2 linked regions of the Homo sapiens genome follow. The protein of the gene in region 2 interacts with the protein of the main gene of each other region in a biochemical or structural test. Each region holds a gene or a part of one and is shown on either strand. Other genes may lie near its edges.

Region 1 (7,026 bases), 2.9 Mb from region 2:
ACCTGCACATTGTGCACATGTACCCTAAAACTTAAAGTTTAAAAAAAAAAAAGAAAATTTTAATATTAATACTCTTGGACAATAAGAGGACCTTAAAATCCTTTAACTCTAAAAAAAAAAAGGGTGATCAAAAATCATGTCTTTCGATTTGTCCAAAAAAACTCTATTGTTTTTGTTTGTGGGGATATGTTCATTAGTTGTTTGATAGACTTCAAATATTTCAAAACTATGTAGAATATTAATAATGACTATTAAGGGCTGCTTTAGTATGTGTCAGACAGCACTTACTGTATATGGTGTTATTTATGATCATTAATTCTTACAGCATCTCTGTGAGGTAGGAATTATAGTCCAGTTTTACAGATGAGGAAGCCAAGGCTCACTGGGGCTCATTGATTTACCCAAGTTCTCTTGGCCACAAGGAGCAGAGCTGGGATCCTGGGTCTGGCACCGCTGAGGGCCCATGACCCTAGCCAACTGCCCTCCATGCCTCCCATCCCTTTGCCAGGAGGGCAGCAGAGAAGGTGCCCAGCGGCACTTCCTGAGCACTGACAGGCAGATGATGGGAAACACAGAGATGAGCAAGGCCTAGTCCCTGAGAAGATGGGGCCAACAGACCAGAATCCCTCAGAGGGGTCGTTGACTGCATCCTATCAGTCCCCACTTTCGGACCAGTCATTAAGTAGGTGGTAAGGAGGCAGATGCTTGGCTGTAGGGAGAATCCTCAGAGTAAGCACTTGCCTTTATCACGTAGCATCAGGCAAACAACGTGTTAAACTGCAAAGTGACTGGAAGAAGTGCCGCCCATTCAGTTCCATTTTAACAGATACCACCAAAGATTCCCTTCTAACCTCTGACTGAAAACCATGGTGTGGGTACTACGAAATAGAGTAAAGAGAACTTTTTGTATGTATTCACTAGTCTCTGTAGAAATCGGTCTATTTCAAGATTATATATGTCCTTTGGGTGTAGTTTTTAAGAATAGGACTATAAAGAACTGAAGTTAAGAGATAATTTAGATAATTTAGTGTTTGACAGTAAACCTGCTGTTTCAGAAGTGAAACACTCTATTTTTTTTTTTTTTTTTTTTTTTTAGTTAAGTTCCTCCAATTTGCTTCATTGACATTGCTATTGGGAAGACTTAAATGCTAGGTTGCCAAGTTAAGGTATTGTTCAAAAGCTAGTAAGAACTGGAGGGGGTTATGATGGAAGCAAACAAACACACATCAGCATTTGAGAATGTCAGTCCTGGCATTAGTGGGGAAGCTCCTTGGACAGAGCAGAAAAGAGCATGAAGATGCTGATCAAATTGGAGATAGTTAAACTGAAGAGACAGGTTACTTCATGTGTATCATTAACTTTGCCTTATGACTCTAGGGCTTTATGAAGCACAACACATCTCGCCAGAATGAACACTGCCTCACCAATTTTGACCTGGCTGAGTATCGGCAGGTGCTGAGTGACTTGGCCATTCAGATCTACCAGCAGCTCGTGCGGGTGTTAGAGAACATCCTTCAGCCAATGATTGGTAAGGCCAGGGCCCCACTGGGCATTGCAGCCTGCCTATCATTCATGCCCATCGATAAGTAGCCACCAGTGGCACATGTTTCAGGGCAGGTATTCATTTGGGGAGCATAAAGTAGTAAGATACAGGGCTAAAATTAGCCGAGGAATCCCAGAAACCCAGCCATAGTTAACTGGGATACATCGAAATCACTGTTTCCACAAGACTGAAACAGTAGTATATGGTTTCCTTCCCTAATGTTTACTGTTTAAATTCAGTTGAATGCATTGAATTTTAAAAAATTGTCTTAAGTTACCAAACATTGTTATCTTCCAGCAAATTATCAGCAGGCTCCCTTTTTTTTTTTTTTGAGACAGAGTCTCGCTCTGTCGCCCAGGCTGGAGTGCAGTGGCGCGATCTCAGCTCACTGCAAGCTCTGCCTCCCGGGTTCACGCCATTCTCCTGCCTCAGCCTCCCGTGTAGCTGGGACTACAGGTGCCTGCCACCACGCCCAGTTAATTTTTTGCATTTTTAGTAGAGACGGGGTTTCACCGTGTTAGCCAGGATGGTCTCAATCTCCTGACCTTGTGAGCCACTCACCTCGGCCTCCCAAAGTGCTGGGATTACAGGTGTGAGCCCCTGCACCCAGCCTATCAGCAGGCTCTTAAGGCTACTTCCAGCTACACTTTCTTTCCCCATGCATGCATTTTCCATGTTTCCACAACTTCTTCATTTCCCTTCTGTGGGCTCATAGTGTTCCCTTTGCTTTCATAGGCCACAGTTAACTAGCTATTTGAGACATCAAAAGCTGAAGAAGCCATGGGAGATGGCAATGTTTTCTTCAGATGTCCCTTAAAACGTCATTAAAGCACCCTAGGTTGGCAAAAATTTAGGAGGTAACACAGATACCAAGGTCAACTTCAGCCAGTTTTTCTATTGCTTTGCCTGTTTCTATTGGCTGAATAAGAAGTTCGCCTCAAAGAAGCCCCAATCTAAATCCTTACCCCCATCTCCCAGTCATTTAACAGCAACAACAAACATGCCGGTTCTAGGGAATCTGTGTTTAGCACAATTAAATAGCAAGATGAACCAGACGTGGCCTTTGCTCTCAAGGGGCTTGCTGTCAGGGAGTGGACATCTCAGAAACATTCTAAGGGAGGCATAAGCCAAATGCTAAGAGAGCACAACAGGGAAGCAGCCGGGCCACAGGTGAGAAGACGAATTCTGGGAGATGGAGGTCAGCCCAAGGGCCCACTGCTGTTGTGGGAAACCCAGAATAAGGAAGGGCCCAGCTCTCCAGACCCATACCACTCCCCTCTCCCACGTTTTCTCCAAGATGGTTGTCAGTGCCCTGCTTTTCTTACTGTTTTTGCCTCTGGGGCTCAGATAACATGGAGAATGCTTATCTTAACCCGAACTGCTACCTACCACTCTCAAAAGCCCACCCAAGACACACACACTTGTTCTATCACAAGGCTACTGCTTCTTAACGCTTCTTATTTTAGAAAAGACACCATTAAGTTTACTTAGATTCATAGTAAATTTTTGCAATTAAGAATTATTCCTTCAGTAAAGTTTAAAATCCGGAAGCCCTTTTGTAGTGAAGTTCCTTTTCCCTCTATTTTGGCACCCAGATCATTTTTTTCTTTTTTGAAATGGAGTCTCTCTCTGTCACCCAGCCTGGAGCCCAGATATGTGGTCTCAGCTCACTGCAGCCTTTGCCTCCCAAGTTCAAGTGATTGTCCTGCCTCAGCCTTCTGAGTAGCTGGGATTACAGGCACACGCTACCACGCCTGGCTAATTTTTGTATTTTCAATAGAGACGGGGTTTCCTTATGTTGGCCAGGCTGGTCTTGAACTCCTGGCCTCCAGTGATCCACCCACCTCGGCGGCCTCCCAAAGTGCTGGGATTACAGATGTGAGCCACCGTGCCCAGCTAATTTTCCTAAGTTGAATGTGCATGTGTTTGTGCACATGGATATGTGCACATGAAAGGTTCCCTTCCACATCATCTCCTCTAACAATTGAAATACTCCTGCAGTCTCAGGCATGCTGGAACATGAAACGATTCAGGGCGTGTCTGGGGTGAAGCCCACAGGGTTGAGAAAGCGAACCTCCAGTATCGCCGATGAGGGCACCTACACACTGGACTCCATCCTCCGGCAGCTCAACTCCTTCCACTCGGTCATGTGTCAGCATGGCATGGACCCTGAACTGATCAAGCAGGTGGTCAAGCAGATGTTCTACATCATAGGGGCCATCACCCTGAACAACCTTCTCCTGCGGAAGGACATGTGCTCCTGGAGTAAAGGCATGCAGATCAGGTGAGCAAATGCCAACACCTGCGACAGTGTCTTTTTGCTGCCCAGCTGGCCTGCCAGGGTTGTGGAGAGCTGATGACTTGTTTTCAGTTCTTGCATCTCATGTCTGGTGCCATGTGGCCAAGCAGCAAGGGAGAAACTGGCACGGAGCCACTTTCCCTTGCCTGGCTGGATTTCACCACATCTCATTATTGCTCCCTGTCTGTACCCTGCCAACAGGTTCTTCACATTCTTGATAGGAAACCCTTTTCCACTGTGAAGCTTGCTTATTTGGGGGAGTGAAGAGATGATGCAAAAATACACAAAGATGAGATAGCTGCTTCCTCTCCTTATGTGTGTGTTTTAATTATACAATAAGAAATTATTAAATTATAATAATGAAGATTTCTAATGTTTGATTGCTCTTAGAAATATATTTTTGGAAAAATACCTTTTTGTACCTATGGCAACAAGAACAGGTCTGATAGATCTTTTACTAATTCTTAAAATATCCCCCCTCTATATTTTAAGAAAAGCTGCACTTAATTTTATGCCCAATACTCCTCAGCATAACCTCATTATTGTAACATAATTTTTTTGCAAATTTTTTTTTTTTTTTTTTTTTTTGAGATGGAGTTTTGCTCTTGTTGCCCAGGCTGGAGTGCAATGGCGCCATCTCGGCTCACTGCAACCTCTGCCTCCTGGGTTGAAGCAATTCTCCTGCCTCAGCCTCCCAAGTAGCTGGGATTACAGGCATGCACCACCACACCCAGCTAATTTTTGTATTTTTTGTAGAGACAGGGTTTCACCATGTTGGCCAGGATGGTCTCAAACTCCTGACCTCAGGTGATCCACCTGTCTCGGCCTCCCAAAATGCTGGGATTACAGGTGTGAGCCACCGTGCTGGGCCACAAATTTTTTATTTTAAAACAGCTAGAATATTCACCAAGAGGAGGGAAAAATGATTTCTCCTATCAAAGTCTTAGTAGTTACTCAATCTCAGGAACTGTTAGTGTTCTTTTCAAATTTTCCATCCTGACTTACATTGAAGTGTAGTGAATTTTAAGACAATAATGCCTTCCTCTCAGATAGTGGAGCATATTTCTCTATAAGCTCTGCATGGAAATGTGGAGCCACCTGTCGCAATATTATGCTGGCCCCTATTTGCCTGGTTGCTAAGTGCTGATTGTGTGTCTATTGACCTCAGTCTTAGGACTGCTGCCACTTGGTTGGCTATTTTGTGAAACCTACAATGTCTTTGTAGTTTGTCTCTGTCACCATTTGGAGTCTTTGTCTCTTCCAGTGGCCCTCCCTTGCCTCTCTCTCCTTTCATCCCGGAGCTTTCTCAGGCCACCATCTTCATCTCCTAGGCTCTTCCCTTAAGGCTTCAGCACAGGTATATGTGGGGCTTTTGGTTATTCAGTTACCTGATTTGGAGTTTGCCTTAAGAGAGAGTGCTTCAAGGATTATCAAGTCTCACCCTGCAACAGCAACCCAGCTCTGAAATTGTAAGAGAAGCTACAAAGTGTTTTCTGGCCAGCTCCCCAATAAAGACAGAGCTACATTATGTTATTCTATTTTGTTTATTAGCAAGTCTAATAACTTTTGCCATAATGACTTCATTTCCATCTTCCATTAAAGAGAATTACATTATCTTGTCATTTAGTCTTATATAATGGTGATTATAATCCTCATGACTATAATAAATTTTTAAGCACAGCTGATGAGATTTAAGAAAATTGAACAAAAATACTGCCTGTCATTTTAACATAAATCCTGACAAGGCCGCACACAAAAAAATTAAGACATTTTTGACAAAATTCAGCAAATTTGCATTCTCTGTATCTCTTTTTTTTCATAGGTACAATGTCAGTCAACTGGAAGAATGGCTGCGTGACAAGAATCTGATGAATAGTGGGGCTAAAGAAACCCTGGAACCTCTCATTCAGGCTGCTCAACTTTTGCAAGTGAAAAAGAAAACAGATGATGATGCAGAAGCCATTTGTTCTATGTGCAATGCTTTAACTACTGCCCAGGTAGAGCAACTTTCCCTGTTACAAAATAATTTAACATTCATCAAAGATGATCTTTAGGGAAGTAAAGAAGTCCTCTACTTATTGCTTGTATCTCTGAGCTGACTTCATCTGTGTTCAAGAAGATATATGCCTCTACCAATCTTAAAGCAAGGAGATTTTGCCAGAAATTAATACATTTCAGTGCTAATTACAGTATAAATATATTTAATATTCAGCAAATATTTATTGAGTACTTACAGTGTTCTATATAACATTGAAGGCACTGGGATACACCCATAGGCAAAACAAAGTCTCTGCTCTCATGGAGTATACAGTCTATGCAGCTTATATTCCATAAAATAGCTTTCTATCTTATTTGATAATTGAGTGGATTATCAAATAGTGACTTTGTTTTTAGAGACAGATAATTCTTGTTACTTCAACAGATGATTAATTAAGCCTCCATCTCAAGGCACCATATTTATTGCTGGGGAAGATGCTTCAATAAATAAGGAAAAATTCCTGCCTTCAAGGAGCTTACAGTTCAGTAGGGAAGACAGAGTCGTATCCAACTGACTCTACCGTAGAGGTTCTAGCAAATTCTGTAGTAAGATGCCTAAAGGAAGTACTGAGGGAAGATAGCAGTATTCAGGGAAGGTCCCATTAATCTGGGCATTGAATTTAAGGAAGTGGAAGAATGAGAAGGGCATTTGAGGATTATAGTGACAGCATGAAGCAAGGCACAGGCATGAACATGCCCAATTTTCTTTTGCCCGGTTATTTTCTGTGCTGACTCTTAGACTTTCTTTCTTTTTTTTTTTTTTTTTTTTTTTTTGTGACGGAGTCTCGCTGTGTCGCCCAGGTTGGAGTGCAGTGGTATGATCTCCACTCACTGCAAGCTCCCCCTCCCAGGTTCACGCCATTCTCCTGCCTCAGCCTCTGGAGTAGCTGGGACTACAGGCACCTGCCACCACGCCTGGCTAATTTTTTGTATTTTTAGTAAAGATGGGGTTTCACCATGTTAACCAGGATGGTCTCGATCTCCTGACCTCATGATCCACCCGCCTCAGCCTCCCAAAGTGTTGGGATTACAGGCGTGAGCCACAGTGCCCAGCCAACTTTCTTAATGTTCATCATATATCCTACAACATATGAAATTTTCAGTTTTGCCCAATACAATTAAAACTCAATCAGTTTGAGACCAGCCT
Region 2 (7,026 bases):
CAACCTGATAACATTTTTAATTACTTTTCCAGAATATGTTGTCTTGGCTGGCCCCTCAGTGAGCACCTAATGGAACGTGTATCCCTGAATTTCATTTCCTTTGGCATTACAACCTCTGGTATGAAACTTTGTGATAATAAATACAGTTACGTTCACACACAAATTTGACAGACTAGACCACTTTTTTATTACAGCTTAATTGGCACATGGTTCACTGAAGATACACTTCACTTTTACATAGGCTTGTAAATAGAAAAATACATTGATGCACAAAAAATATAGTACTTCAATACCAAACTTAAATGATTTCCAAAAAGAATACAGGTTATTTCAATAATTAAAGGTGGCTTTTGTGTGTGCACTATATCATGTATACACTTAATTGTATGTTTAAGGCCAGTGGAATCTATAGCTAATTACTCATTTGGTTCTTGAAAACTGAAACATGCAAACATTCTTATTTTTATGTTTAAAGACATTTAATGTGTTATTCTAACACAAATACACCATATAGAATATGCCCTGATATGTAGCTGTAAAATTATGTTGTACTGCACTGAAGTCTTATGGCAACTATATAAGGCACTGCTGTGTGATTATGACCCTGCTCTTTTTTTTTTTTTTTTTTTTTGAGACAGAGTCTCCTCTGTCGCCCAGGCTGGAGTGCAGTGGCGCAATCTCGGCTCACTGCAAGCTCCGCCTCCCAGGTTCACGCCATTCTCCTGCCTCAGCCTCCTGAGTAGCTGGGACTACAGGTGCCCACCACCACGCCCAGCCCATTTTTTTTTTTTTTTTTTTTTTAGTAGAGATGGGGTTTCACTGTGTTAGCCAGGATGGTCTCGATCTCCTGACCTCGTGATCCGCCCTCCTCGGCCTCCCAAAGTGCTGGGATTACAGGTGTGAGCCACCGCGCCTGGCCAACCCTGCTCTTGAAATGTCTAAATCTTTTCCTCACTAGCATATACAATTCAAATGCACAGGCCTCCATGACTTCTTTGGAATTTAAAAGAAGCCTTCATTTCAAGGATAGAAATATGTAAAATTTTACCAACCATGGATAAGTTTGTTATGGGAGTAGTGGAAGGACAGTGGAAAAAAAAATAGGTTTTTTCATGATACTTTTATTTTTCCTTTTTTAAAAATAAATTTAGGGGGTACAAGTACAGTTTAGATACATGAATATATTGTGTAGTCGTAAAGTCTGGGCTTCTAGTGTAACCATCACGCAAATATACTTGTATTTTTCTAATTACAGTTCTACCAAACATTTGCCACCACAAAATACAAGTATTTTTATTCTTTATTTAAATTATGGTGAGTGATATTTCTTCCTATATAGCCATTAAGATCTCTGGAAGTTTTGATCTACTTTATTCAAACCACTTTAATAAATAAGACTTTTCACCTAAATGAAATACCTTTGAATTTTATAAACAACTTCCATGAAACATATATTAAAACCACCTTTAATTTGGTATGAAGACACTTTGGCAATGCAGCGGAATAAATGATCTTGGCAAGACCCAGCAAGTACAGTAAATGCTCATGAGCTCTATGAAAAATATAGGCTACAGAATACTTCATTTTTCTTTTATTGAACTACAGTACAAATGTGACTGCTTCAATATGAACATCTATCTTCCACCAAATAGCAAACAGGCATCTTATGTAATTAAAAACTAATTATTTCAATTCCACCAATGGAAAAGCAAAACAAGTTGCAAATATCAACAATACAGAGCCTGCTGGTAAAGATAGAGATGAGTAAGTTATAAGCTAATAAAGCTGCAGCCTGAGGATGCCAGATCAACATTATAAATATGAAGAAAAAGAAACTAAATATTTACTCATCGCAAATAACTCGGCATAAGCACCAGCTATGTTCAGGTGCGGCCAGCACATAGGCCAAGTATAAATGTACAATCACAGTGAACTAAAGCCATAAAATCTAGTTCCCTGACCCTTCAATCAACCATTCAGAGCAATGGGAATATAGCGGGGAGACAGAAGTCCCACTTTGGTTGCTCATATTACATTAAGCCAGCCTGCCCCACCCCAATCCCCTTCCCACCAATAAAAAAGTCACCGTGAGTGTATAATTGGTCAATCCAGTTTATCCAAGGTCTATAGATATAGCCATGATTTGTCCTATATTCATGTTAAATAGAATGCTTACATAAAATTAATACTCAAAGACATTGAGCTGATGTGCATGTATATTCTTATTTAACATTTAAGTGGCTTTAATGGTATTTTAGAATGTCACCTATGGCATGAGTCTTCAAATCTGGATTGAAGACTGTGGCGGTTTTATAACTGCATGTAAGATCTTAAATGTAAGACTCTGGGCCTACCTACATTAAGGCAGGTGACAGTACCCTCATTCATTCTACATAATAAATACACTCTTCTGTGACTGCAAAATTCTGAATCCTTGAATGATTTACTATAATAGGCTAAGGTTGTATAAGGCACTTTTGGCTCTGAAATATTTCTCCTAACTCTCAGGCTGAATCTTAAAGAAATATTTACAAAGCTGCAACAAATTAATTTTAGAACCGGATGCTTTATTCGTAGGTCTAATGGGGATGGTGAGAAGCAATTTGTACACAATGCCCATTAATCTCTCACTGTGCCATGTATCAATCATAGAGAAGATCCCAGGCATGGGCCACCTGAACTACTATGTCGCTTACTTGACTTCTCAACAGCCACATGCCCCTTTCTCCTTTTCTTCACTTAACTGATCCGTAGAGGCATGACCATTTGATCGCACCACTCCTTCAGGAATCCAGGACTTGTCCACACACCGTTCCATTCGCTTCATTATCAGGTCCAGAAGCATCTCAATTGCTTGGCTTATGTTTGTCCCATTGGCAGCACTAGTTTCAAAGTAGGGGATTCTGGAAGACAGAGACAACTGAGGTAACAACATGTGGAGGGAAAGGAGAGTGACCTTTGCTCTTGATAATTCAAATTAGAGAATCGATAGAATACAAATATACAAGATGACAAACATTTTACCACCCCAGAGTACATTAAAAAGTTAAAAAGACAATAAAATACTCACACTGCATTTCCAGTAGATATGCAAAACTGGAAATTTTAGACTCTTCAAAATATCAATTTTTGGCTGGGCGCAGTGGCTCACACCTCCCAGCACTCTGGGAGGCTCAGGTGGGCAGATCACCTGAGGTCAGGAGTTTAAGACCAGCCTGGCCAACATGCGGAAACCCCATCTCTACAAAAAATACAAAAATTAGCCAGGAATGGTGGCATACACCTGTAATCCCAGCTACTGGGGAGGCTGAGGCTCAAGAATCACTTGAACCTGGGAGGCAGAGGTTGCAGTGAGCCAATATTGTGCCACCGCACTCCAGCCTGGGCAATAGAGTTAGACTGTCTCAAAAAAAATCAATTTTCATTTTTTAAAGGACCATATATATATTTTGGCAATACATACTGATTTACTGTAAAAAATTTATAAAAAGATATAAGTAGGGGATTCTGGAAGACAGAGACAGAATTAAATCTTTTTTCGTTTAAGTTTTTGGAGGGTTTTTTGTTTTGAGACAGAGTCTCTATCACCCAGGCTGGAGTGCAGTGGCACGATCTCAGTTCCCAGGCGACTTCCCAGGCATCGATCCTCCTACCTCAGCTTTCCAAGTAGCTGGGACCACAGGCGCACACCACCACACCTGGCTAATTATTGTATTTTTTTGTAGAGACAGGGTTTTACCATGTTGCCCAGGCTGGTTTCGAACTCCTGAGCTCAAGCTACCCACCCGCCTTGGCCTCCAAAGTGCTGGGACTACAGGTGTGAGCTGCTGCACCCAGCCTAGTTTTAAGAATTTAAAACTTGATTATTGGTATGAAAGCCGTTTAAATTCCTCTAAGTGAAAAGTAAAACTTGAAAACTTTTAGAAGAACATACAACAGTCTTATCTTTTTGACATTGGAATAAGAAAGGATTTCTTAATATAGCTATAAAAGCTCAAACCACAGAGAATAAGTTTGATAATCTTGACAATGTTAAAGTTTAAAACTTTGGTGCCACAACATATATCATAAGCAAAGTTAAAAGATGAGCGACAGGCCGAAATACATGGCATTTCATATAACTTGCAAACGGGTTAGCATCCGAAAAAATAATTCCTCAAATGAATTAAAGTAATAAACAAGATAATACAAAACAGACTAAGGATATGCACGGGAAATTCTAAGAAATTACATTTGTGAAAAAATGTTCAACCTCACCCAAAATAAGGGAAATGCAAGTTAAAATAATGGTATATTAACTCACACCCATCAGATTGGCAAAAATATAGAAATCTCCCAATATTAAGTATTGCCAAGGAGAAGAAAAGAGGAACTTGCACTTACTGCTTATGTAAGTATAAACTGTTAATAACTACTTTGGAAAATAAGACGGTAATATCTGATAAAATTGAAACATGCATGCACTATGACCCAGCAACAGCACTCCTGGGTATACATCTAAAGCAGAGCCAAGGCATGTTGATGGGCAGGAAGTGAGTTACAGGGATACATGAGACATCAGCAATCCCTCAGTCCTTAGGGCAACTGAGAAGGTCTTAGGGCAGCCAGAGTCCCTGAACCAGTCTCCTCCAAACTTGAGCAGCCTTATCTATTTATCCCAGTGAGCTGTACAAATATTATCATTTTCTGCAGGTGCCATCCTATGAAAAATATTCAGAAACCCTGTGCTGGAGCAGCACTATCCAATAGAACTTCCCACAGTGACAGGAACTTTCCATATGTATATCATCCAGTACAATAACTACTAGCCACATGTAGCTATTGAGCACTTAAAATGTGGCTAATGCAACCAAAAATGCGACTTTTTTGTTTTTGTTTTTGTTTTGTTTTGTTTTTTAGAGATGGAGTCTCACTTTGTTGCCCAGGCTGGAGTGTAATGGTGTGATATTGGCTCATTGCAACCTCTGCCTCCCAAGTTCAAGCGATTCTCGTCCCTCAGCCTCCCAAGTAGCTGGGACTACAGGAACAGGCCACCACTCCCAGCTAATTTTATCATGTTGGCCAGGCTGGTCTCAAACTCCTGACCTCAAGTGATCTGTCTGCCTCCACTCCCAAAGTGCTGGGATAACAGGCATGAGCCACCACACCTGGCCAAAAAACCTGAACTTTTAATTTTAACTTAAATAGCTACATGTGACCAGTGGCTATCACACTGGATAGTGCAGCCCTAGAGAAGCTCTCACATATGTGCACGTGGCATCGTCTAATGGAATAGATATTGCAGAACTATTTGTAATAGGGAAAAAATTTACCTAAACGTCCATCAATAAGCGCATGAATAGTGATATTTTTATACAATGAATTATACAATGCTTAAACTGTATCAACATGGCAAAAATTAAACATTGAATTAAAAAACCAACTTGTATGATACAAGATCATTTGTGTGAAGACAACAATTACACATCATTATAAAAACATCTATGTAGTAAAAGTACAACTTCTTGGACTAGAAATATATAATTTTGACTGCTTTTAGCTAAAAGTAACCGAAAATTGTGGCTCAAATTGGCATGAATCACAAGTAGGAATTTATTGTAATGCATAATGAACACAGAACTAGAGAGTTTCCAGTGTTAATTCGGTTGCCAAACGGTAGAAACAAAGAGCCTAGATTCATATCATCCTTCTGTTCTGCCATCCTCCACATGTCAGCTTTCTCCACAATCTGACTCCCTTCATGACCCCAGAAGTTAAAACATTCCAGGCATCACATCTCAACACACCGAAGTTCCAAGGAAGAAAGGACTCTTCCTCTGTGTGCCTCCCTCAGGAGAGAGGAAATCTTTCCCACAAGTCCCTGGAAGACTTTCCCTCGTGTCTCATTGGTCAAAACTGTATCACATGCCAATGCCTAAACCAAACTCTGGCAAGAGGAATGGTACACCACCATCACTGGCTTAAACCAATCAGTCTTCCTGGGCTGGTGGCTGGCACCTGCCTCTCTTAAGTAGCATGTCCTCTAGAAGCAGAGTAGATAGCTAAAGAAAATTGAGATTCTATAAATAAAGGCATGAATATTGTCTAGGCAACCAACAACATCTGCTATAGGAAGTAGATATAGTGTGGTTCCCTCTGAGGAGGTAGGAAGGAGAATGGAATCAGCAAGGAATTTTAAAAGGGACTTCAATTGTATCTGTAAGAAAATTTTATTTTTTATTTATGCATAATATAGTTTCAGAGTAAATATGATCATTTAATACACTGATATAATGTGTAAAGATAAGTATACTTGGGATTGCCATAATCTTAAATATTTGTCTTTTCTTTATACTAGAACGATTGGAATTTTTCCCTCCTAGCTATTTCAAGATATACAATAGATTGTTGTAAACTATAGTCACCCTACTGATCCTTCTAACACTACATCTTATTTCTTCTATCAAACCATATGTTTGTACCTATTAATCAATCTCTCTTCATCCTCCACTCCCTCCTACCCTTCCTGGCCTCTGGTATTCTCCAATCTACTCTCTATCTTCATGAGATCCACCTTTGTAGCTCCCACATATGAGTAAGAACATGCAACATTTGTCTTTCTGTGTTTGGCTATTTCACATAACATAATGATCTCCAGTTCCATCCAAGCTGCTGCAAATGATGGGATTTCATTCTTTTTATGGTGGAATAACATTCCATTGTATATATAAACCATATTTTATTTATCCATTCATCCATTGATGGGTAGATTGATTGCATATCTTAGCTCTTGTGGATAGTGCTGCAATAAACATGGGAGTACAGAGAGCAAATACCCTTTTGATATATCTGATATACATCTCTATATATCTTTTGGGATATATATATATCTCTCTCCTAAGAAAACTTACATAAAACTTTTAAGAAAACTTCCACTAATATATATACACATATATATACACATATATATGTGTATGTGTGTACATATACATATATACACACATATGTGTGTATGTATACATATATACACACATGTGTGTATATATA

What was found.
Region 1: the proteins of RAB27A (region 2) and MYO5A form a complex in vitro, tested with the Homo sapiens proteins (one study listed by BioGRID).

Annotation. Positions count from the first base shown.
Region 1 is NC_000015.10:52,315,861-52,322,886, reverse strand, and holds part of MYO5A (unconventional myosin-Va), read left to right. Parts: intron 1-1,377; coding exon 1,378-1,528; intron 1,529-3,544; coding exon 3,545-3,827; intron 3,828-5,664; coding exon 5,665-5,839; intron 5,840-7,026. UniProt on the Homo sapiens protein: Processive actin-based motor that can move in large steps approximating the 36-nm pseudo-repeat of the actin filament. Can hydrolyze ATP in the presence of actin, which is essential for its function as a motor protein. Involved in melanosome transport.
Region 2 is NC_000015.10:55,202,803-55,209,828, forward strand, and holds the end of RAB27A (ras-related protein Rab-27A), read right to left. Parts: intron 2,904-7,026; coding exon 2,705-2,903; 3' UTR 164-2,704; downstream 1-163. UniProt on the Homo sapiens protein: Small GTPase which cycles between active GTP-bound and inactive GDP-bound states. In its active state, binds to a variety of effector proteins to regulate homeostasis of late endocytic pathway, including endosomal positioning, maturation and secretion.